Homo sapiens: one gene and its partners. The protein of the gene in region 1 purifies or fractionates together with the protein of each later gene. This does not show direct contact. Each region holds a gene or a part of one and is shown in the gene's direction. Other genes may lie near its edges. The genes, in order: ODR4, PLXDC2, SCARB2, EVA1C, LRRTM4, OSTM1 and CLCC1.

Region 1 (3,500 bases):
GTAGCTCATGCCTGTAATCCCAGCACTTTGGGAGGCCTAGGCAGGGTGATCGCTTGAGCCTAGGAGTTCAAGATGAGTCTGAGCAACAAGTGAAACCCTGTCTCTACAAAAAAATACAAAAATTAGCTGGGGGTGATGGTGTGTGCCTGTAGTCCCAGCTACTTGGGAGGCGAAGGTGGGAGGATCGATTGAGCCTAGGAGCTTGAGGCTGCAGTGAGCTCTGATAGCATCACTGTACTCTAGGCTGGATGACAGAACAAGACCCTGCCTCAAACAAAACAAAATAAAACTAACCAACCAACCAAAAAAATACCTCTTTTCTTTAATATGTGTGTGTATAGTCTTTAATAGTCTAGTCTGTTTTGGATAACAATGCCATAATTATAGATAGATAGATAGATAGATAGATAGATAGATAGATATATGTATATACACACATACACATATATTTACATATACTAATATATAAATGTGTTATATGTTAAAAATATATAAATTATATGTTAAATATGTAAAATAGGACATTCTTTTTAGAGTAGTTTTGTCTACAATAAAAAGTTATGGAGTAGATAGGGGAAGCCTGTTACTCCTCCTCCAACCCCACCTTATTGATGTATCAATGAACTCTACATGTGTCATATGGAAGCTTATTCCAGACATTGTATCAGCATCGTCACACTGCTGCTTGGTTTGATGATAGCCATTTTTGAATGGACCCAGGACCTTTGGAGCTGTGTGGTCTGTGGCAAATTTTTTGTCAACAAGTCCTTGACCATCTTAAAGTTTAAATTGTTTAACAACACCTAGAAGATTTACATTGCCTTAGACATTGCTTGAATTACACTAGACATCAATAATGCTCTTTCAATAGCTATGCATGTCAGTATTCTCCTCTTCATTATTTTTCCGCATTTATTCCTGATTGCATAAGCACATAGGCACAAAGCACTTTTCACAAGTTGTATGATTTGACTTTTGTTCTTCAGAATTGATTTGGTTGTTGAATGACTTATACTCCAAGTGTTCTTAGAACATAAATTACTTCCTTACCATTTCCATTTTTTGGTTATTTTTTGTAAATCATTATTTTTTGTTTCCACTGTTATTATAGGCCTCTATTACAGGTTGAGTGTGCCTTATTTGAAATGCTTAGGACCAGAAGTGTTTTGGGTTTGGGATTTTTTTTAGATTTTGTAATATTTGCAGAATACATACCAGTTGAGCATCTCTAAGCCAAAAATCTAAAATCTTATATGCTCCAATTACCTTTTCCTTTGAACATCACATTGGTGCTCAATAAGTTTTGGATTTTGGAGCATTCAGGATTTTTAGATTAGGGATGCTCAACCTGTAGTACTTTAACTATTTTGATACTGTCCTTGTTTTTGGCACTTATTAAGATGATGGGGTTGAAAATATATGTGAAACACCTGAAAACCGAACAAGAGCACTGGCATTCCTTAGACTAAAGAGGATGGGACTAGTCTATGAAAGTTTTTGGTTGAAAGTGTGTAAATATATGTGTCTGTGCATTGCTTGTAGTTTTACCATAGTTATCACATCCCACTTTGTATTTGTTATTGTGAACTTATTTTGCATTGCACAACTTATATCTAGTACATCATATCTTCTTTGTATATCTTTTAATCATCACAGTACTGATGTGAATAATTTGCAAATAATATATTTTTAGGAGCATATCGAGTGAATATTGAACCATTTTAGATGGTTATGTTAGAAAAATTTAGATGTAGTTGTGTTTAATTTCATTATATCTTCAAAATGACTGGAAAATAATATATAACTTATAAAAACAAATATGAAGGCCTTTAAATAATTTGCAGAGAATAATTTCAAATGCTTGGCTCAGTCAAAACTTTGTTCTCTCTTCATAAAATCGCTAATATAATGTTTAAATATTTCCTGTAGTTAATCATTGTTGGTTATTAGAACTTAAACAGATTTTGTCTTTCAGCTCCTGAATTCAGACCACAGATCCACAGCCACAGTCCAGATATGTAGCGGTTCTGTAAACCTTAAGGGTGCTGTGAAATGCAGAGCTTATATCCACAGCAGTAAACCCAAAGTTAAAGATGCTGTGCAGGTACAAAAAGGAATAACGAGCATATGGAACCATGTTAACTATTAACAAAAACCTAAAATTTTACCATTTTTTAATCTTATATTTTGTAATTATTAATTCGATTTTAACTGATAATGGCCTATTGTGCAGTCCAAATGTACCATATAATTGGTGTGAAGATTTTCATATGTAGAGTATCTATTTTGTGCCTTTTTAAAAATGATGGCTATACAAGTTTAGTAAGTGTTCCACTGTTATACATATTAGTATCTAATTTGGAACACTGCAATTATTTTTTTAGATGTGAAATTTTATTCATTTATCTGTTTTTAACTATTTAGATAAATTTATCATTAAACTATAAATTTGTTAATAAGTGTGCTAAATAAGTGGAAATAAAACATTGAATGATGTATCAGTTATTTAGTGGGCATGATTGTACTGGAAAGCAAATTATTTTTTTTGTTAGTTAAATATTGTAAATCTAAAGTATTTTATTTCTTACTGTGTTTTTTGTGTGTTTTTCCCTGTAGGCAGTAAAGAGGGATATATTGAACACAGTTGCTGATCGTTGTGAAATGCTATTTGAGGATCTGCTTTTGAATGAAATTCCAGAAAAAAAAGTTATGAGTATAAAATAAGTACTTTTTTGCGTATCTTCAACTGATATAGTAATAAGATATCAAGATATAGCAGATACGTCATCTTTTATAGCTACCTATCTATATTTTCAAGCAGTATATCATCTTTTATTATTGGATGAAAATTTTTCAGTTGCTACTCAGATTTTTTTTTTTTTTTTTAGACAGAGTCTCACTGTGTTGCCCAGGCTGGGGTGCAGTGGCACAGTCATGGCTCACCTGCAGCCTCAGCCTCTTGGGCTCAAGCAGTCCTCCTACCTCAGCCTCCCTAGTAGGTGGGCCTGCAGGCACATGCCATGATGCCTTGCTAATTTTTGGTATTGTTTTTTTAGAGACAGGGTTTTGCCATGTTGCCCAGGCTAGTTTCAAACTCCTGAACTCAAGTGATCCACTGTCTTTGGCTTCCCGAAGTGCTGGGATTACAGGTGTGAGCCACCATGCTTGGCTCTAGAAAAACGTTTTAGAACACTATCAAATTTAGCAAATTTGTCAACAATTAAGAATTTCAGGGAGGATTTTTAAAAAAATTAATTCCAAGTGAACTTCTCCTGCCAGAATGAGTAAACTTTGTTAACATTTTAAAGTTAGTATTTTTTGTTGATATCTATGAGTATTTTAAATAATTTAGCCATAATCAAAATATTATTAGTGTTAAATACTATATAATAGCTCCTTTAGTAGGTACTATTTATATAAACTACACTAGTTTATATGCTTCTCAGCTATTACTCTAACAGACTTCATTACGTTTAAAAAAGGCTGAGTTACAGTATCTT
Region 2 (3,500 bases), on another chromosome or scaffold:
AGTGATTTGGTTGCCATGTGCGATCCTAACAGTGACATCCTAAGGAATGAGTGATTATTTAGCAACCCTCTAAATATTTCCCTGCTTCTCCAGTTGCGAGTTCTATAGAAGAGTTAATGTTATGCTAAACTGAAAATGTGAGAATGAACTACCTACTAATCTTTTACTTTTAATTTCTGTCCACCACCCTGCACCCTATCCTTCCTTTTCTGAACTGCATTGTGGTCTTCTTTGAAGATGTTCCAGTGGATTTGATCGTCATCGGCAGGACTGGGTGGACAGTGGATGCCCTGAAGAGGTACACATGCTTTATTGTGACAGAATCCTGGGACCAAGCTGTCATATACATGTGTTTTAACTGTTAATAATTTTTATTCAAAATTTATGCCCTAAAACTTAATGAAAGGAGAAGAATCCTTCTATAAGCCCAATGTCTGCAAATATTAGGGGTTCGATAACAGCTGGCTATTTTTGTTAAATTAGATAACATTTTCATTACATTGTAGCAACTTGCTACAACCCCTAATAGATGCAGACATGGGGCTTAACTATTTATATGTATTATCTCATTTCATTGTCATATTCATTCTATGAAGAACAGTGCCTGCACTGTCACTACCCCCATATTACCAAGGAGAGAAAGGGGAGGAGTGAGGGGAGCTTGTGGGGAGGGGTGAAGTGTGGGTTCTTGGAGAGTCAGGTAAATGGCTAGGGAATAGTAGGGCCAGGATTGGAATCTGTAGAGGAGTTCTCTTAAATGCTTGCTATTTTTCTAGGATGTACGAAACCATTGTTCCTCTTTGTAATTCAAACAGCAAGACCAGTGGTATTGTGGAGGGTGGAAGACTGCAGCAAATTGATGTGCTGTAATAAATGAGAAATTGTATAACATTAGTTGGCATAGAGAGATGGTATAATGTTAACTCTGAGGGAAACATGATAGAGACAAGGATGCAGTGAAGTCGTGTAAGCAATTGGATACCAGAAACAATTTTAACCCGTTTAAAAGCTTTGCAGTGACTCGCATTTATACTATCATTTCAAGATCATATAAAGATATCCTATAAAGTTTATGAAGAAAAGCATTTACTTCTTCTCCCTTCATTAAGTTTTGGGGTATCAATTTTGAATTAAAACTGCTAACAATTACAAAAGTTTAGCAAAGCAAGCCATGCCAAAATGCTGTTTTAAAAACTATTTGTTCAATGGTTACTTAGAGACTTTTTAAAAATTCATTTTTGGGGGGCATGTTTCATAAAGATCTTGAGCAATACATTTTTAAAAACATTCTTGAACTTTAAATGCAGTATTGCCAGTGTAGCTATAACCAACCTTTTGGCATTTCATTTAGGGAATGACAGCAGTGTGTGCTCATCCGTCTCACCTCACTTATCTAATAACGTAGTTCCAAAGAGTATCTATTGACAAAGCCATAGTTGTGTTTTGAGACAATCATTTCTTTCATATAATCAGTTACCTCAATATAAAATGTTGAAAATGAATATCTCCATATATGTAAAGATTGAGAATGTAATTCAGATGTATATTTTTTCTCCCAAATTTGGTTTATCTTTTCATTTTCTCTATGATTTTATTTCACTAACATTAATTATCAATTTAATCTGTCAAATGTATGAATCTTTTATTTTTATGATGAGTTTTATATGCCTGTGCATCTTCTTTTAGAAGAATTTTCCTACCAAATTCCATCTAGGTGTTATTTTTGTGTATTTTTTTCTGAATATTTTAAAGCTTTGTCTTACACGTCAAAATCTATTCCATTTGGAATTGGTTTTTATGTATTATATAAGGTAGAGATTCAGTTTCGTGGGGTTTTTTTTCTTGATGGATAGCCAAATTTCAAGCACCATTTGTTAACTAATCCTTTCTTTTGGCAATATCTTGCAAAGTCACCTGTTTTATGTATATTTTCTGGGCTCTCCTCTTCTAAAGCTCTGTCAGTACTTAGATCAGTGTCCCACTGTATTAATTTCTATTGTTTTATAAGAAATCTTACTATATACAGGACAAATCTCCTTACTTTTTCTTCTTCACAAGTGTTTGGGTATTTTAGGGCTTTTGTCCTTCATATAAATATTAAACTCACCTTGTCGAGATCTGTAATCCATCTATCAATACATCTTACTAACATTTTATTGGAAATACATTAAATTATGAATTAGATCACATTTCCTAATTACAGAGGCTTTTAAAATTTACCTTTTTTACTATTGACTTCTAGACTAATTGAGTCATCATCAGAGAACATGTTATGATCTTTAAAGTTGATTGGAAATTTTTCATGAACAAGTACATGGGCATTTTGTACAAAGGGTCTATGTGTGTTCAAGAAAAATGTGTGTTTTCCTGTTGGTTGGGTGTCAAGCTTGATAAATGTACTCTTCAGCTATACTTCTCCACTCTCTTTATTTTCACCTTCTGACTTCTTTGAAAGCTTGCCATTTTCATCTTTTCCTCATATTTTTAAACCTCTATTATATGTAATCTCTTTCCTTATTACTCTGTGCTGTATTTGGAGCAATTTCTTCAGATGTATTTACCGGTTTATTAACTCTCCCTTCATCTTGTTTAATATTCTATGTAATCTACTCACTGAAGTAGAAATTCCAACAAACATTTTTCATATCTAAAATTAAATTTGACACTTATTACATCTGCCAAGTATTTTATAGTTTCATGTGAACCGTTCATTTCTCAATTTTATCTTTTATGATTTTAAATATTCCGTGTATGATTTTTGTATATTCCATATTGGATGATCCCATTATCTAAAATTTTGGTGATCTAAATAGTGTGGTCATTGTTTTTGCTGATTCTTTCTCAGACAGCTATTTTTTTTTCTTTTTTAGTGTATATTTGTCTGATCCTATTCTAAGACCTAAATAGGTGATGTTTTCCCCCAAAGAAGATTTGATGATGGGATCCTCAGGATTTTCAGGCTACCATAAGTCTCTGCCCTAATGTGAGGAGGAGAAGTTCAGATTTTTCTCCCCTGTCTACTACTGCTGCAAGGCTTGTTCTCTTTAGAGCGATATTGATTTTGGATTTTTTTCCTCAGGGCAAATTCTGCTTTTTTAACTTCCCTTAATGTATACAGCTCCTACTGTCTTTATAGCACATAGCTTTTGCTTTGTTTTATTTTTTGAGTGGGGAGGGGAATAAACAATGGAAAGGCACCATTGGGATATTCTTTACCTCCTGCAAATCCTAAGGCTTTAAAATTCAAGTTTTATTCAGAATCTACTTGTTTTGTTATAGGAGGGCTATTTAGTTCCTTAGTCTGCCGTTACTGCCAAAAGCAATCTGAGCCTAGGATTTTACCTTAAACGTAGGGTGTTTACTGAACATTATTAGATCCTGTTTACGGAATACTAGGTCCTGTTCATTGACAGTAGAAACACAAAGAGAGAATAATATATGGCAAGTTCCATTCTATACTCCTTGAGTTTGAGATGTGTGTGACATTCACATGCAGACAC
Region 3 (3,500 bases), on another chromosome or scaffold:
AGGTCCTTTATGTCTTCCCATCTGACTTTTGCAGGTAAAAGCTTTAAAGATAAGTTCTTTTTCAAAAATAAGGTCTTTCACTGCAAGACCACCAAAAGCATGAGGAATATATGCAGACACACTTATTATGCATGGATATTTATGCATAATCAGTGATAAATGCTGATGGCACATCGAGACAGTATAGTGTACTGGTTCACAGCACAGACTTCTGACTGTTGGTTTGAATCTTGGCTCTACCACTTATAGCTGTGTGACCTTGGGCAAATTACTTAACCACTCTGTACCTCACTTTCCTTATTTGTAAAACAAAGATAGAAATTGTTAACTATGTTAGAGGTTGTTATGAGGACAAATGAGTTAGTATTAGTCAAATACTTAGCCCAGGGCCCATCACACAGTAACCAATATTAAGTGTTGGCTCTTAGTTACTATGATATGCTCTGTCAAGCATCAACTGACCTGGTCTACTTCCAGTCAATAGGTAGTCTCTACATGGAAGCCAAATAAAAGATACTGTTGTCCATATTTCAGCAGAGTGGTTTCCTCAGGGGAGGCAGAGAAGGAATGGAATCAAGAGCATTACGTAGACAGGTTCAGTTATATCCATAATATAATTTTTATTTGTCTAAGTGGCAGATACAAAGGTATTTGTTAGAGTATTTTATCTCTTTCTGGTGCCTAAAATTTTTCATTAAAAAATGCTGTAGGGGTGGTTTGGTTTGTGCAGTGAAACCACCTATGTTATTCACAACCTTGCGAGAGATGTATCAACAGCTCTGGTTCAGAGATGAAAAAGTGAGGCCCAGAAGGCTCTTCCGGCCAGCCTTCAAAGGAAGGGCTGAAGGCTCAGTGGTGACTGTGTACATCAAAGTGGTTAGGCACTATGCAGTGTAAGCAGTGGTCATATTACATGGGACTATGTTTGAAATCAGTAAGAATGAAAGGCAGAATTACGTTGAACTCCATTTAAATAAATGACTGGGGCAAAATATGGAATCTGATTTTTCTTGGAGGGGGGGATTGAGTATCAAAGTGTGTATTCCAATAAAGTATCTGTCCAATGTGACACTTTTCAAGTGCCTAAGACCCTACGAGGCCACGGCCATCGCTGCCTGTTCTACCTTAGCTTTGGCTCTGCCGTGCCCTGGCTTCCCTGGCTTTGCCGGTGGCCCGTCCACACTGGCATATGTCCATGCAGGTCTAGAGAGGCCTCTTATTTCTTTTTTATGTGAGTCTCCATTCTAAATGTTATCATCTTAATTTTGTACCACATATTGTTTTTTCTTGTTTGGATGATATCACCGTTGCTACAATAAACACCTTCCACTACAATTCATCTTCTGCTTTATTACACGTTGAGTTGACAGAATGCCTTCCAAACATTCCTTTCTACTTACCCTGTGAGCTTTTGGCCATGTTGTACCTGAGAACTGTTGCTAACTTGCGGATTTCGGGCAGATTACACTGACCAGAGTCCACATTCACTTTTTATTCTTACATCCTAACAGGTCAGTGTATATTACTTTCAGTGACTATGAGAGTGTACAGGGACTGCCTGCCTTTCGGTATAAAGTTCCTGCAGAAATATTAGCCAATACGTCAGACAATGCCGGCTTCTGTATACCTGAGGGAAACTGCCTGGGCTCAGGAGTTCTGAATGTCAGCATCTGCAAGAATGGTAAGAACTCAGAGAGGGGACATGATAGGGGTGTCAAGAATGCAGAAGGATTGGAGTTCAACAAAGAATATGTAGCTGGGCGTAGTGGCGCACACCTACAGTCCCAGCTACTAAGGATGCTGAGGTGGGATGATCACTTGAGCCCAGGAGTTCTCAAGTCCATCCTGGGCAACATGGCGAGACCACTGTCTCTAAAAAACAAAACAAACAAAAAAGAATATATTGTCAGCCCAATAGAAAGATCAGTTTCTTTCAAGAACAATGTTTCATAACATGGCTATTGAATGGTAAAAAAAAATCATGGCTTTTCTGTGATGCTTTTTATTTCTAGAATGCCATGTTGTGTTTTTTTTTCTGGACAGTGGTTTAGAAGTCTTAACAGTAATAATAGCTCATGTTTACTAAGCACCTGATGTATGCCAGTCACTGTCCTAAGTGCTTTACATATTTACATGTAGTTAATGCATGCAAAACATTAACTGATTTCATGTTCAAAACAATGCTAAGGCTGGGCACGGTGGCTCATGCTTGTATTCCCAGCACTTTGAGAGGCCGAGATGTGAGGATTGCTTGAGGCCAGGGGTTCAAGATCAGCCTGGGCAACATAGCAAGACCCTGTCTCTACAAAAAAAAAAAAATTAAAAAATTAGCTGGGTGTGGCGGCACACACCTGTAGTTACAGCTGCTCAGGAGGCTGAGGCAGAGAGATTGCTTGAACCCAGGAGTTCGAGGTTGCACTGTGCTATGATTGTGCTGCTGCACTCCAGCCTGGGCAATAGAGTGATTCCGCACCTCCCCACCAAAAAAAAAAAAAAGCTAAAAGAAAAAGTGGACAACTCAGTTTTAAGAAAGTACGTATCATGGCAAAGATTCTCAGTGATTTTGAAGCAGAGTTAGTTTTAAACCCTGACACAAATGTCCCAGTGTTTCTTAATGTCAGAGCTACTCTGCTCCTTTCCATGAATGAGGCAGAATTATCAGTGGCACAACTGACAAAACTATTTTCTTCATCTTGAAGAGTAGTTTTAACAGCCACATGTTGCAGAATTATTCACAATGAACTTACTAGATAGTAGACATTCAGCGGCCTGTTTTTATAATTGGGGAAACTAGGGCTCAGAGAGGGAACGTGATTTTGATGCGACTCCTCCCTCTGAGCAGATCCCTGGCGGAACTCAGGGTCTTCTCATATTTGCCCTGTGATTCCCTCTTGGGCTGTAATTCCTCTTTAAAATTTCTCTGGAGAGCTCTCTGTGTAGTCCCTTTCTCCTGAATAGTAATGTGCTCACTTTTGCTCCCTTATCTATCTCATTTTAAAATCTCCTTTCAGGCCTGGCATGGTGGCGTGTGCCTGTAGACCCAGCTACTCAGGAGGCTATGGTGGAAGGGTCGTTTGAGCCCAGTTTGATTCTAGCCTGGGCAACATAGCGAGACTCCATCTTTTAAAAAAGAAAAAAAAAAAAAGAATAAGATATCATTTTGGAATAAGTCTGAAGTCAGCAGTATACCTCCTGATCCTTGTCTGACAGGGCAGTGACCCCCACACCTGGCTTTACATCAGAATTATCTGGAGAGTTATTAAAAATATATTGGTGAGGCATGGTGGATCATGCCTGTAATCCTAACACTTTAGGAGGCTGAAGCAGGAGGCTCACTTGAGGCCAAGAATTTAGACCTGCATGGGCAACAGGGAGACCCCATCTGAACAAAAAATTTAAAAATTAGCTGGGCATAGTAGCATACACCTATAGTTCCAGATACCCAGGAGGCTGAGGCTGGAGCGTAGGAATTCAAGGCTGCAGTGAGCTATGATTGCAAC
Region 4 (3,500 bases), on another chromosome or scaffold:
GCAACAGAGCGAGACTCCATCTCAAAAAAAAGAAAATGTATTCAAGGAAGGAAATATCAGTAATATCAGTAACTGCCTTGTGCTTTTTAATGATTTGCTTCTTCAGTTGTAGATAATCATGTCATTCTTGCTTGGAGCTATTTTAGGCAGCCTTTACTGACTCCTTCCTTCTACTACATAGTACCAGGAATTGGGAGAGGTGTGGTTTAAGTCATTCTTTTTGTGGTTGGCATATTTAGGGAAAGATTTGGTATAGGAGAAGGTCAAACTAATATTTCAATGATGGTTTTAGACTGTGCATGGCTTTCAATCATCTGAGCAACTTCTACTTCACCATCCCTGGCCCCTAACATATATAACTAGTTGACCAGGATTACTGAGTCACTTGGCCTTGGATTTTTTTTTTTATGCCTCCCAAGTTCCATATGAATACATTTAAAGCAGGGAGTTTAGAGCAGGTGGAAAGTTGGAAGTCTGTTTGATTTTGTCGACCGTAGGAAATATGGATAAAGATACATTTGCTAGAACTAAGGAGAAATAAGAGTAGCTTTAATGCTGTGTAGCTCTCCCTAAGGCCCAAACAGGAGACGCAAACTAATGTGATGATGTAAGAATTTTTCTATTTCTCACACCATCCCTTGCTTCCACTCCAAGCATGGTAGTATCTGGGTATTTAGGTGATTGGTGAAACACACCAATTGAGTAGCCAAAATGAATGTGTCTGAATGACTCCCCATGACATGGTTTCTATACCTTGAGGAGAGACAACATGTTTCTTCAGGAGACAAGAAGTTGCTTTCCCTGTGTGCTCCACTGTCTTAGTCCTTTTTGTGCTGCTATAACAGTGTACCTGAGCCTGGGTAATTCATAAGGACCTGAGATTGATTTCTCACTGTTCTGAAGGTCAGGAAGTCCAAGAGCAAGGCGCCATAGGTTTGGTGTCTCTACTTCCAGGATGGCTCCTTGAACACTACATCCTCTAGGGGGTTGGAGAACGCTGGTACTCATGTGGCAGAAGAATGGAAGGGGCAAGAGAAGGAGAGAGGGCCAACTTGCCTTTTATAACAAGCCTAGTGCCACTCTAACAACCTACTCCTGAAAAAAAACAAAAAACAAACAAACAAACAAAAACAGTATTAATCCATTCATAAGGGTGAAGACCTGATGGTCTAATCACCTCTTAAAGACTCCACCTGTTAACACTGTTACTGTTAAAGCAGCAATTACATTTCAATGTGAGTTTTGGGGGGGATAAACATTCCAGCCATAGCACCCACCCTACCCCTAACTCTCTCTGTTGGGCGCCACCCCAGGAGCTACATCCCTCTTGACCCACCCCCATTTCTCAGCCACCTGCCCTGGCCATCCATCCTTGGATCCCAGGCTACCTGCTGCCCTCCTGGGTGCATGAAAGGAATGTTGGCCAGTACCAACATTTTTTTAAAGTGGCTACTTTGTAAAAGTAGGAACTCTTGGCATACACTAGAGCATGGGCACCACCTGCACCATTCCACGGGTACCTGCCTCTGCCAGATACCCCTGAGGGAAGAGGATGTTCTATAACCAGGCCGACAGGTTAGCATTTGTGAACACAGTTCTGACGTTGTTGGGAGGGTTTGTTTGCCAGAAACATCCCCATGCGCTACTCTTTCAACCAGAGGTCAAGAAGTCCTTTACTTTTGTGTCTTTTTTGTTTGTTTGTTTGAGACGGAGTTTCACTCTTGTTGCCCAGGCTGGAGTGCAATGGCGCAATCTCGGCTTACCACAACCTCTGCCTCCCAGGTTCAAGCAATTCTCCTGCCTCAGCCTCCCGAGTAGCTGGGATCACAGGTGCCCACCACCACGCCTGCTAATTTTTGTACTTTTAGTAGAGACAGGGTTTCACTGTGTTAGTCAGGCTGGTCTTGAACTCCTGACCTCAGGTGATCTGCCCGCTTCGGCCCCCCAAAATGCTGGGATTACAGGTGTGAGCCACCGCGCCCAGCCTTCTTTTGTGTCTTTTAAGCTGCACTCGGAGCACAGGCAAGGTGCTTCCTCAGAGGGAGGTTGCTTAACATGGGGAGACATCCACACAGGAGACCACAGCTGATCCATCCCTTGACTGTCAGCAGCAAGTCCCCCTCTCTGCATTTTCCAGCTCATGACATAGTTTGGAAATAGCCCTGCCCTGGGGTCTGCTCTGTGGTTGTAACAGTGGAGCCCTCCGGTGACATCTGTGGGCCAAGTCATTTCACCATGACCTTTGGCCATGCCACATGCAGTCATCTGAAAGCTGCACCTTCTGGGGTCTGAGGGGTTTCTTGGGTATTTTTTCCTGATTGAGACACATCTGCTGGGCCCCTGAGAGAATGGGGGATACCTGGCGGGGCCAGCATTCTTCACGGAGCTATTCCACGAGCTACTATGAGAACATGGTGACTCAGAGAGGCTCACGTGTCTGCACTAAATTCAGACCTAAAGTAATAAGCAGATTCTTGGGAACTTTTTTTTTAACTGTACTTGATGTCCTTTTTGTTTTTGTTTTAACCAGACCCAAGTTCAGGACCTCTGTGTTTATCACAAGCAGGACTTGTTCCATTTGGGAACGAGGACCTAGAGAACAGCAGCAAAAAGCTGAGCCTTCCCAGGACCTGGAGGAGGGTGTTCTGTGAGCTTCCACAGAGCAGATGCCTTAAAAACGAAGGAGCTGTCTGGAAAAAATCAGGAGAGAGAGAGAGATTGAGATTTGCAGGAAAGCCTTTACTGCCAATGCTCAACAGAAAGTCTGAGTGTTCCACTAAGAAAACTGCTCCCCGAGGGAGAAGTGGGTCCCATCCTCTTGAGTTTGATGAGGGTGGGAATCAGCTTTGTAATTTTTATTTTTTGGCCTGTGGATGGTTCGTAAGCTGGAAAGGGTTTGGGTCCCCAAGAGCTCCCCGATGCACAGCTCTCCTGTGTCCTGTGTGGGGCTATTTAAGGATGAAAGGCCAGGACTGTGAATCCTGATGGTCACAGCTCTCTCAGCTTAAAGCTAGGGGACCCCGCTCGAAGGGGACCCTGAAGTACCCTGCACCCCAATATCTGAAAGTCCTCTGACCTCGCTTGCACCCCCTGGAGCCTCGGCACTCAGTGCCTTTGCTGAAAGTAGCAGCCGCCGCACCAGTAGTGGTGGATCAGAGGTTAGTTTTCCCAGGAGCCTGGCACTATTGGATCAGGTTTCTTTTCAGGAGAAAGAGCAGGGAGACAGGGAGCTAACCCAATCACCCACGTCTATGCTCTTTGGCCTTAGACACAGCTTGGCCAGGTGGGGAGGCGTCCTTCCCTTTGCAGAGCCCAGAGCAGCCCAGGTTCGGGTCTGGCAGTCACTGTGAGCAGTTTTCAAGCCTGTCCCTTTTCTACCCTCTCCTTCTAGAAGGTGCTGGACGAATGCCAGAACCAGCGGGCCTGCCACCTCCTGGTCAATAGCCGTGTTTTTGGACCTGACCTTTGTCCAGGAAGCAGTAAATACCTCCTGGTCTCCT
Region 5 (4,067 bases), on another chromosome or scaffold:
GGGGGACATATTATTCCTTTCTGTTCCTCAAGAAATCTTAGTAATGAGACAATTGCCTGCAACTGCCTACTCATACATCTGAGTCAAATTATATGTGTTATTTATATGATAAGCCCCCTTAATTATTAATATTTTGGCAAACAATCTAAAACCAAGGCTCTTTCTAAAAATATCTATTTGCGATGATCCACAGCAATTCTAAATGCTTATGTGAAATTCATTTAAATTTCTCACGTCTGCTAAATTAGGTTAGCAGTCTTACCTAGCAGTCTCTCCCTGCATTACATTGATTCATTCTCCTGGATTATTCTAAAAATTGTTATCTGCCAGAGGATTATGGAATAAACTAGTAAAAATGAGGAAAAAATGGAGGTGATGCACTATGTTTTTCAACGTCTGTCCAAGCTTAAAGAAAGTGTGTAGGTCCTTTTAAATTATATATATATCAGGTGTTTTATCATGTCATCCCTTCTAATTCTGAGGATATTCTGCACATTTTAGAGTAATACCATGATAATGCAGAACTCAAGTGCTTTTGTTTTTCTGGAATTGCACATTACAATAAGTGATTTGCATAAGAAATGATTTGCATTCTAAATGTAGATGATTTAAGGATAATGGCTGCACTAAGAATGTCAAGCTAGAATTCTACTCTTATCTCTTAGTTACCTTCACATTTGGTAATATACTATAGATTATAACTGCTTTAAGACTAAAAATGTAAACTTTTAGAAAGTAGTGTTCTAGACTGTTCAATAAAATGCACAAAATTGTAAAATGCATTTTATGTCAAAGGTTGAGAATTTGAAAATCAGACTTAAACATGTTAAATGTAACCTGTTTAAAATTGATTAAAATTGCATTTTTCCCTTGAATAAGATTTCTTCCATAAGCGGTTAGTTTAAAACAATATAAATAAATAAAACAAACCAACAGCAACAGTGAATAAAACTTAAATTTCAACAATTTCTGTCATTTGCAAAAGATGATAAATCTCCAGTGACGTGCAGAAAAAACAAATTTCAGGTCATGGCAACTTTGAAAAACTATTAATTGCATAACATTTAGAGAAGCAGTATTTTACTTAATATTTGCTATAACTGAAAGGAACTCCTTGGCATAAACCTTTTAAATTATTGGAGAGAAAAAAATAGTGATTCTGTGCCTTTAATTTCCCTTTCTGAGCAAGGGAAGGCTGCACACCACTGACAGGCTCACTTGTTCCCGTCTTTAATGTGCAATCTGTTTTCTCCAGCGGAGGGCACTCAGTGTATCACAAACTCAAGCATTAGCACCAACAAGCTCTGAGCATCATCAGTCTCTGGAAAGCCTTCTGAATTAGACAAGGGCTGCCTCCCAGCACAGCTACAAAACACTTTAAACCTGACCAGCTAAATGGATAAACCTAGCCTGCATAGCTTTTAAACTGGGGTCTCATACAGCACAGGAGGCCTACTTGCTTCAAGAACTGAAAATCCAGAGGATGAATTGCTTTATCTGGGAATGGCAAAAGCCAGCACAATAAGGAATGCCAGGTATTCTGAAGATTTTCTTTTTTTCCTCTCTTTTTACAGAGAAGTTGGTTACCTCCGAGATGGGCTGTAGCTCTTTTGCACAGATTGCCAATTACTGCTGATGGGTCTCTGGTGAATTACACAATGGTCCTCAGAGCCTAGAGGCCCTCCCCCATCCCTATCCCCCCAACGGCTTCCTTTTCCCTGCCCCCACAACCATCCCACCCTGTGCTGATTTTTTATATATATATATATATGTATATATATATATGTATTTTTTTTTTTTTTTTTTGCCTGTCCTCTCGGGGAAGTTTGTATGGGGCTACTAGCTCACATGCGGGATCAGAATGGTGTGAATGACAGCCGCACTGTGTCATGAAGGTGGTGGTGGTTTCCGCACAAGAGACCAAATAAGAAGAAAGCTGAGAGAGGGGGGAAACGTTTTTGGATGACAAAGGATGGGTAAGTGAACTTTTGTTGTTTCCTTCTGAGCAAAGCTGATCCTCTTGGCTTCCTATCCTCAGTCGTGGCATTAGCAGATAAAAGACGGGGAAACAGGCAAAGAGCAGCAGCCTTTGAGTTTGCCAGTTGATTCACTATAGTTGCTATTATATTTTTAGATCATTTTCCTTTTTGCAGTGTTTTTTTTTTAATCTATAAATGCACAACACGAACTTAAACAGACTCTAGAGAAATATCTTTAAGACTGTTTCTACTGTCTGCGTATCCACAGCTTGGGAATTCAGAAGGAGATAAATACTGTGTTTGCTTCTATTTCTTGATAATATTAACGAGGCTTGTGTTTCTGGTAGCTGTCAGGATGACTATTAACACTTTGCTGCGTGTATGTAGGGGTGGGGTCCTTACTTTATCAGAGGTTGCACAAGGGCTTGTTTTATCTTTGAAGCTGGATCCTGAACACAGCTTCCGAATTTCCAGCAGTCATTTGCCAGTCTTATTTTTTCGAGTGTGACTGGCTTTTTTCCCCCCCTTTCTCCTGTCTGGGAGAGCTGGAATGTATTTCAATGAGTCTGTAGCTGGCAAGAGGACAGAGAGCAAGATCGGGTTTTAAATTAAAAAGAAAAAAAAGAAAAACTTAACTGTTTGAGAAGAAGGATGGGTTTTAGATTAGGGATTTGGTTGATTGCCTCTTGGTTAAAAATTTAAAAATTTAAGAAAAAAAAAGAAACTGCAACACATGGTAGTTGTTTCTTTTTTTTTCTCTCCATTAAGAAATAATAAATCTACTGTTGACGGAGGAAAGAAGTCCCTTAACATGCAATGACTTGGAAATGCAGTGTAAGTGCCAATAGATTGTAACTTTGCAGGCTTTCTGAAGTTAATGGAGATAGGGGAGAAAAAAGTCAGTGAGAAATGTGAAGAGATCAGGGTGATGTAGAGAAAAATAGTAGTTGGCTGCTTCTTTCCTTGTTTATCCTTCGAATTTGCAAAAACAACTCTAAAATAATGGCAAAGTGATACTACACAATATTATTTTGCTTTTTAGGCAAATAATACGAATTTTGATAGTCTTAACTTTGGAGTGTTCTCTGTTATGAGTATTTAGATGTCTTAGCTCCTGTATCGTTGGGCAGGGAGCCACAGTATGCAATAATCTATGCTTATTAACAACTTGAGAGCACCTCGTACCGTTATTAGTCTTCATCCAATGCTTCATTGGCTGCCTATACTAGTCTCAATGCTGTTTTTTCAGAGCTCACATATTGCGATCCTATTATGCAATAAGTACACAATTTCAGGCAGGGCAAACTTGGGTTACCTTGACAGCTTACTGAAGCTCTTTTGCCAAATCACAGCCTGTTTGCTCAACTGGGAAACACGTACAGGTACCAGGTTTACTAAGTCACATTTTTGCCCTTACCAGAGCACATAGTACACTTCCTTTTGGTACTGTTGTTCAATACAGTGGTTAGCCAAATATTATTGTTACTAAAATGTCAGCATTCAGTGGTGAGAAAGGCTCTGTGCTTTTCAATGTTGAAATAAGTAGGAACTCCTGAAACTCAAAAAGGCTTTTCTTAATTCTATGGGACTGTGGTGATTTGAAGATCAAGGAAGAAAAAGTGAAACCTAAGCAGCAAACATGCAACACTGAAGAAAATAATGCTCGAAATGTTAATGCATTTTCCTTAAATCAACTGTCCCATTCCTACACTAGAGGAAATGCCCCTGTTGTTGGTAAACCGACGGTGATTTATTTTAATAGCTTCACAATGTGCATCTGTCTTTTTTTTAATATCGTAGGTTTCCATTTAATTACGCAGCTGAAAGGCATGAGTGTGGTGCTGGTGCTACTTCCTACACTGCTGCTTGTTATGCTCACGGGTGCTCAGAGAGCTTGCCCAAAGAACTGCAGATGTGATGGCAAAATTGTGTACTGTGAGTCTCATGCTTTCGCAGATATCCCTGAGAACATTTCTGGAGGGTCACAAGGCTTATCATTAAGGTTCAACAGCATTCAGAAGCTCAAATCCAATCAGTTTGCCGGCCTTAACCAGCTTATATGGCTTTATCTTGACCATAATTACATTA
Region 6 (2,833 bases), on another chromosome or scaffold:
ATTGTTTCTAAATTATTTCAATCAGATGAAAGTGATACGATTGAAATGAAATCACATAGTTCGTGCTCAGAAATTCTATTTTGGTATGTTTGTATTAGCCTTTAGAAAAAACACTCCGTTTCAGAATTGTTCACAGTTTTATTTCTTAGGTTTTTAGAGTTCAGGATTTCATTTATTAATTTCTTCTTGCTTTTTTGGTGGAAATAGGCTTTGTTGTAAACATTAAGAATATAAAATCTCCTCTATATAGAAACAAGAATTTTGTTAAAAAGAGAATTTGAATCCCTTCCTATACTATAAAATGCTCTATAGGGAGACAAAGTGTTTCTTTTTTCTTTTATGTTTACTGTTTATGTGGAGTGAAATATAAGGCTCTTGGATGTATAACATACTCAAAAGCTGTTACACTTTCTCTGATCTGCTGTGATCCACTGAAAATGTGCTGGGGTTTGTTCTGCTGTCACTGTTTATGCTGCTGGAACTTAGCACTGTCTTGATTTGAAGCATATGATTGAGAGCCATTTGAAGCAATCTTCATTAATGCAGATAAAACAAGTTTACATGTGCAGAGTTAGAAAATGACATGTTCAATTCTGTAAGTGGTGACTTTTTGAGCACCTTTCAGTATTATGTATTTGTAAAAACCATTGTTTTTGGATATAAAGCTAATAAGCACTTTAAAAAGGAAAAGGCAGCCTTTACTATTTTTTCTGGTTGAGTCATTGCTCTTTAGACCTAGCATCAGCAATAGATTTCAAAGATAAGTATTAAGCGCTACCCTAAAGTGTGTAAGTTTTTCATTTTGTCATATTGAAAAATGATTTGCATAGTACTGAATGTTGACACACAGCTTATATGTATTTACAAGAATATCTTTAAGTGTTTTTTTGACACATTAAAATAAAGGAAATAAGGAAATTGTAAGCTTTATTTGGATTTTTAAATACATTTTTAAAATTTCAGATGTAATTTAACATCACATTTGTTTTTCAGGTATTGAGTTTAGATGCCTACTTTTATGAGTACCATCAGCTGGACACAGTGTCTCATACCTGTATTTGCAGCACTTTGGGAGGCTGAAGCAGATCGCTGGAGCTTATGAGTTCGAGACCAGCCTGGACAACATAGTGAAACACTGTCTCTGCAAAAAATACAAAAATTAGCTGGGTATGGTGGTAAGTGCCTGTAGTCCTAGCTACTTGGGAGGCTGAGATGGGAGGATGTCTTGAGCCCGGGAGGTGGAGGTTGCAATGAGCCAAGATTGTACCACTGCATTCCAACCTGGGCGACAGAGCCAGACCTTGTCTCAAAAAAAAAAAAAAAAAAAGAAAAAAGAAAGTACTGTCTGTCTTAAATTTTGCTGCAAATAAAAATGTACTTTGGATTATTTATTGTTGAACTTGAGAGATAGAAATAACATCAGATATATTTTTTCTTTTTTTTTTATAATTAATTTTTTTTTTTTTTTTTTTTGTAGAGACAGTGTCTCACTATGTTGCCCAAGCTGGTCTTGAACTCCTGAGTTCAAGAGATCCTCCTGCCTTAGCCTCCCAAAGTGCTGGGATTACAAGCATAAGCACCACACCTGGCTGAACATCAGATATTTTAAAGTGTAGCCCAGAGTCTAGTTGGTAAATGTTACTTATATTGGGACTAGTATTTTCTAATGTTTCTGGGATATGCTCCCTATAAAATGAAATGTTTTCCTGGAACAATGCTAATTAGGATTGCATTCCTGGCCAAAGACATGACATCAAATAAGTAATAGACATCACCAGCAATGAATTTTGAAAAGCAAAAAATACTATTAACCTATATAACCATTTAAAATTTAAAAAATTATGTTCCAAGTACCTCTATTTTCTGAGCTAGAAGAAACCTTAGAGGCCATCTGATGATAGATTCCCAGAGCTGGATGGATCCCTAGGGACTACCTAATCTGACTTTCTGTCCACTGCATGGATTCTTCTAAAAAGTATGTCACTTATTTCCCTACCTTATTAAGACTAAATAAGTGGAACATCATAGAGCTCTTTATTTATAACAGTCATTCTTTGATAGTCAACTCTTAAATGGAGACTTGAGATGCTTAAATATTGTACTACTGTGCTTATCTTGTAAAGATTTCATAAAATGATAGTATTGGTTATTTTAAAAAGGCTTTGGCTTATGCTGAATTATACATGTAGCACCAAAATGTTACAACTCTACTAAATTTCCTTGTTCTAAACTATTATATTAGCTATAATAAATATTAGTCATACATGTAACATGTTTAATGACAAATAACTTTCTTTATCTCCTTGGAATTAAAGAGGGCTTTTAAAAGATAATTTGACTGATCCATGCTTCTTACAGTGTGGAGCTTTGCAATGATGATTTTTTAAATATGTTTTTCTTGTGATAAACAGGTATTTTTTAAAATCTGCTGGGTGTGGTGACTGGTACCTGTAATCCCAGCACTTTGGGAGGCTGAAGCGGGAGGATCACTTGAGCCCGTGAGTTTGACACCAGCCTGGGCAATATAGTGAGACCTTGTCTCTACAAGAAATTAAAAAACTAGCTGAGCATCATGGTGTGTACCTGTAGTCCCAGCTACTCAGGAGGCTGAGGTGGGAGGATCGCTTGAGTCTAGGAGGCAGAGGTTGCAGTGAGCCAAGATTGTGCCACTGTACTCCAGCCTGAGTGACAGAACAAGACCCTGTCTCAAAAAAAAAAAAAAAAAATCCATCTCAGTACCCCAATGCAATCAAAAGATTTCAGAGCTTTAAAATGAATGATGCTGGGTGCAGTGACTCCTGCCTGTAATCCCAACACTTTGGGAGGCTGAGGC
Region 7 (3,500 bases), about 77 Mb from region 1:
AATACAAAAAATTAGCCGGGCGTGGTGGCGGGCGCCTGTAGTCCCAGCTACTCGGGAGGCTGAGGCAGGAGAACGGGGTGAACCTGGGAGGCGGAGCTTGCAGTGAGCCGAGATCGCACCACTGTACTCCAGCCTGGGCGACAGAGCAAGATTCCGTCTCAAAAAAAAAAAAAAATTATACATATATGTATATTTATATATCTATCTATATATATTTATATTTATATATCTGTCTATATTTATATATTTATTATATATAATATATATTTATATATTATATATTTATATTTATATATATATATGCACTGTCAGTATTTAGCAAGATTTATATTAAATCTTAGTATTAATATTAGTAATACTGGTTAGTATTAAATATTAGCACTGTCAATATTTAGCAAGATTTACAGAAAAAAAGGCAATGCTAAAATTATTGGGCTTCTTTGATGTTGTAAATCAGGCTAAGTCACGCTTAATGAGAAGGCGATTTTTAAGTGATACAGATTTTTTTCCTCCCCTCTGCCCCTCTAAATGATACAGACATATTATACTTACTTGTATATTTTTATAATCAAGAAAGTAGTTCTCTAGTTTGATTGCATATGTCATAGCAGTGATTTAGAATAATAACCTCTTTTTAAATGTGTTAACCTTGGTAAATTAATACACAGGAAATAGGAAGTTGATTTCTGTCTCCCAGAAAGGGGGACTTCTTATTTCTAGTCAGTTTTTGCAGCAGTGAGAAGGGTAGAGCATTGAGTTTGACACAGAACCAGAAAGGGATGTGGAAGAACATGGGTATGCTGAGAAAGAGTTTGGGGATCCAGGAGCAGACATTAAGAAGAAATATTACTCGTCATCCCTCCATGGTCTATTCAGTGTTTTTTGTTATCGATTTTTTAGCTATTACCCAAGTAAAGCAGTTGTCGCATAAAACAAAAAGAACTCAGATGTGCCAAGGGAAATTCTCTTCCCTAAGGATACAAGATTCACTATCTCTGTTCACTTTGAAATCGTTTCTTTTTTGGTTTTGTTTTTTGGCTTGTGATTACAGGATTATGTGGTTGACGGGTATTTTTTTGTTAGGTGACATTAGTTCTATAGTCATAGTTTAGTCTCTGAAACTGAAATTATCAGCAGAGTCTTCACCATCTGTTTTTGTTTCATGTGCTCCCTCAGGAAAGTTATGCTCTTTGACTTTTGCTGCTTTTGTCTTCAAATAGTAGTGTTTGAAAAACTAGTACAGAAATTTTCAAAGTTTCTGTTCTCAGGACCTCTTTGCAGTCTTAAAAATTGAAGCCCACAAACAGCTCTTACTTAAGGTGATTATATTTATTGATACTTACATATTAGGAGTTAAAACAAATTTAAAACATACGAGTACTGTACACGCAAGCATGCATCCCCTGAGTCTGAGTGAGGCTGTCACTCTAGCATCTGGAATGCTCCGTTGTATATTCAGGAGGGGACAGTGAAAAAGACAAATAATAATGTCTTTGTATTATGAAAAGTTTTGATCTCATAGATCTCCTGAAAGTCTCAGGTATCCCCCGGGGGTCCCTGGGCCACACTGTAAGGAACTGCTGCCTACTTTTTCCCATGGAATGTGAATCAAAACCTGTTGAATTTTAGCTGTAACTTAAGCCTAGTTTATATTTGTAAAAAGAAAATGTACAGAAGATTGTTTACATAATGATATACAACTTTAAATATTTTCAGCATTTACCTTATATGATGGGCATGAATCTAGAAACATGAATAATTATCAGACTAGAACCTTCTAATTTAAATATCTAGGCTTCAGCCTGCCATTGTTATAGTTCAATCGAAATGTGTCTAGCTGATTAAAATGTCTACTGAAAGATTTATTAAGTTTTATTGGCCACTCTGGCCTTGTATTAATCTAAAGAGGTCTCTAATGAAAAAAAGTCAAATTAACATGTTTATGTCTATAAATGCCACAAGTAAGTTAAATTACATAACTTTGTTAGCACTCTGAATAAAATGCCTCATAACTTTTGTAAGTTAGCCATTGAGTCCTCAGGAAAATGTATTTCTTTTCCTTACAGAGTTTCTGCTATGGTGCTGGAAAATCAGTTCATGTGCTGAGACATATAGGCGGTCCTGAGAGCGAACCTCCCCAGGCACTTCGGCCACGGGATAGAAGACGGCAGGAGGAAATTGATTATAGACCTGATGGTGGAGCAGGTGATGCCGATTTCCATTATAGGGGCCAAATGGGCCCCACTGAGCAAGGCCCTTATGCCAAAACGTATGAGGGTAGAAGAGAGATTTTGAGAGAGAGAGATGTTGACTTGAGATTTCAGACTGGCAACAAGAGCCCTGAAGTGCTCCGGGCATTTGATGTACCAGACGCAGAGGCACGAGAGCATCCCACGGTGGTACCCAGTGTAAGTCAGCAACTCTTTTATTCTGCTGTCCCTTCATTACTGGTTCTAAATCCTTCTGGAAGAGGTCTGATTGTTTTTACTCTTTTACCCCTCACCCTTAATTATATCATGAGTGATACAGCCACTCACTCTCTCCCCTTTCTGGTCAAAAGTTAGTTCAGCTTCCTCAGAAGAAATAAAATTAGATTTAACTTTTATGTAAAATACAATTTAACAGTAGTTTGTTAGAGCAGATGGTAATTCATATGAACCTTCATGGGAAGCCAGCGTATGAGCATGACAGAAATTTCTATCTTTGAAGAGATCAGAGAGAAGGCATCACTGAAGGCCCGGAGCTCTAGGGAAGGTACAGTAGAGCCCTAAAGGATTAGCTGGATGGAAGAGTGGGCTGGGGCCAGGGATCAAAAACATTGCTTCCCCAAATCTTCAGTGTCATTGGCTGGCTAGACTATACTTTTTACCTGTAGAATGGTAAGAAGAAGTTTTTCACCATTATCAGTCTTTTAAAGGGACATTTCCATTTCTGTTTGAGAGAGGAATTTGTATTGTCATTTGAAATGTTTAAATTGCAGCTGTTAAACCTTTGAAACAGTTATGAGCATAATAGAATCTGGGAAATTATAGAATCCCTTCCCATAGTTTCATATAAAAATAAACATATCTACATGTATCTAGAAAGATGGACCAGGCGCGGCGGCTCACGCCTGTGATCCCAGCACTGGGAGGCCGAGGCAGGCGGATCACTGGAGGTCTGCAGTTCAAGACCAGCCTGGCCAACGTGGCAAAGCCCCATCTCTACTGAAAATACAAGAAAATTAGCCAGGCGTGATGTGGTATGCACCTGTAATCCCAGCTACTTGGGAGGCTGAGACAGGAGAATTGCTTGATTCCAGGGGGCGGAGGTTGCAGTGAGCCGAGATCGTGCCATTGCACTCCAGCCTGGGTGACAGAGTGAGACGTCGTCTCAAAAAAAAAAAAAAAAAAAAAAAAACAACTTAAGATGGTCCTTCCAGCTTTTATAGTTAGTAATTACCTGTCACCTATCTCAGAAGTCTTCCAGTGACTTCCTATCTCACTTGAGGGGAAAGCCAG

The links.
Region 2: the proteins of ODR4 (region 1) and PLXDC2 purify together in Homo sapiens (co-immunoprecipitation; one large-scale study listed by IntAct). This does not show direct contact.
Region 3: the proteins of ODR4 (region 1) and SCARB2 purify together in Homo sapiens (co-immunoprecipitation; one large-scale study listed by IntAct). This does not show direct contact.
Region 4: the proteins of ODR4 (region 1) and EVA1C purify together in Homo sapiens (co-immunoprecipitation; one large-scale study listed by IntAct). This does not show direct contact.
Region 5: the proteins of ODR4 (region 1) and LRRTM4 purify together in Homo sapiens (co-immunoprecipitation; one large-scale study listed by IntAct). This does not show direct contact.
Region 6: the proteins of ODR4 (region 1) and OSTM1 purify together in Homo sapiens (co-immunoprecipitation; one large-scale study listed by IntAct). This does not show direct contact.
Region 7: the proteins of ODR4 (region 1) and CLCC1 purify together in Homo sapiens (co-immunoprecipitation; one large-scale study listed by IntAct). This does not show direct contact.

The regions. Positions count from the first base shown.
Region 1 is NC_000001.11:186,396,338-186,399,837, forward strand, and holds part of ODR4 (protein odr-4 homolog), read left to right. Parts: intron 1-1,961; coding exon of another isoform or gene 1,962-1,975; coding exon 1,976-2,104; intron 2,105-2,616; coding exon 2,617-2,707; intron 2,708-3,500. UniProt on the Homo sapiens protein: May play a role in the trafficking of a subset of G-protein coupled receptors.
Region 2 is NC_000010.11:20,211,432-20,214,931, forward strand, and holds part of PLXDC2 (plexin domain-containing protein 2 isoform 1 precursor), read left to right. Parts: intron 1-237; coding exon 238-298; intron 299-3,500. UniProt on the Homo sapiens protein: May play a role in tumor angiogenesis.
Region 3 is NC_000004.12:76,172,325-76,175,824, reverse strand, and holds part of SCARB2 (lysosome membrane protein 2), read left to right. Parts: coding exon 1-34; intron 35-1,511; coding exon 1,512-1,681; intron 1,682-3,500.
Region 4 is NC_000021.9:32,454,206-32,457,705, forward strand, and holds part of EVA1C (protein eva-1 homolog C isoform 1 precursor), read left to right. Parts: exon of another isoform or gene 1-3,384; intron 3,385-3,391; coding exon 3,392-3,500. UniProt on the Homo sapiens protein: Binds heparin.
Region 5 is NC_000002.12:77,519,577-77,523,643, reverse strand, and holds the start of LRRTM4 (leucine-rich repeat transmembrane neuronal protein 4 isoform a precursor), read left to right. Parts: upstream 1-1,267; 5' UTR 1,268-1,528; coding exon of another isoform or gene 1,529-1,535; intron 1,536-1,825; 5' UTR 1,826-1,972; coding exon 1,973-1,976; intron 1,977-3,779; coding exon 3,780-4,067. UniProt on the Homo sapiens protein: May play a role in the development and maintenance of the vertebrate nervous system. Exhibits strong synaptogenic activity, restricted to excitatory presynaptic differentiation.
Region 6 is NC_000006.12:108,040,909-108,043,741, reverse strand, and holds the end of OSTM1 (osteopetrosis-associated transmembrane protein 1 precursor), read left to right. Parts: 3' UTR 1-2,333; downstream 2,334-2,833. UniProt on the Homo sapiens protein: Required for osteoclast and melanocyte maturation and function.
Region 7 is NC_000001.11:108,935,985-108,939,484, reverse strand, and holds part of CLCC1 (chloride channel CLIC-like protein 1 isoform 1 precursor), read left to right. Parts: intron 1-1,176; exon of another isoform or gene 1,177-1,319; intron 1,320-2,066; coding exon 2,067-2,408; intron 2,409-3,500. UniProt on the Homo sapiens protein: Anion-selective channel with Ca(2+)-dependent and voltage-independent gating. Permeable to small monovalent anions with selectivity for bromide > chloride > nitrate > fluoride.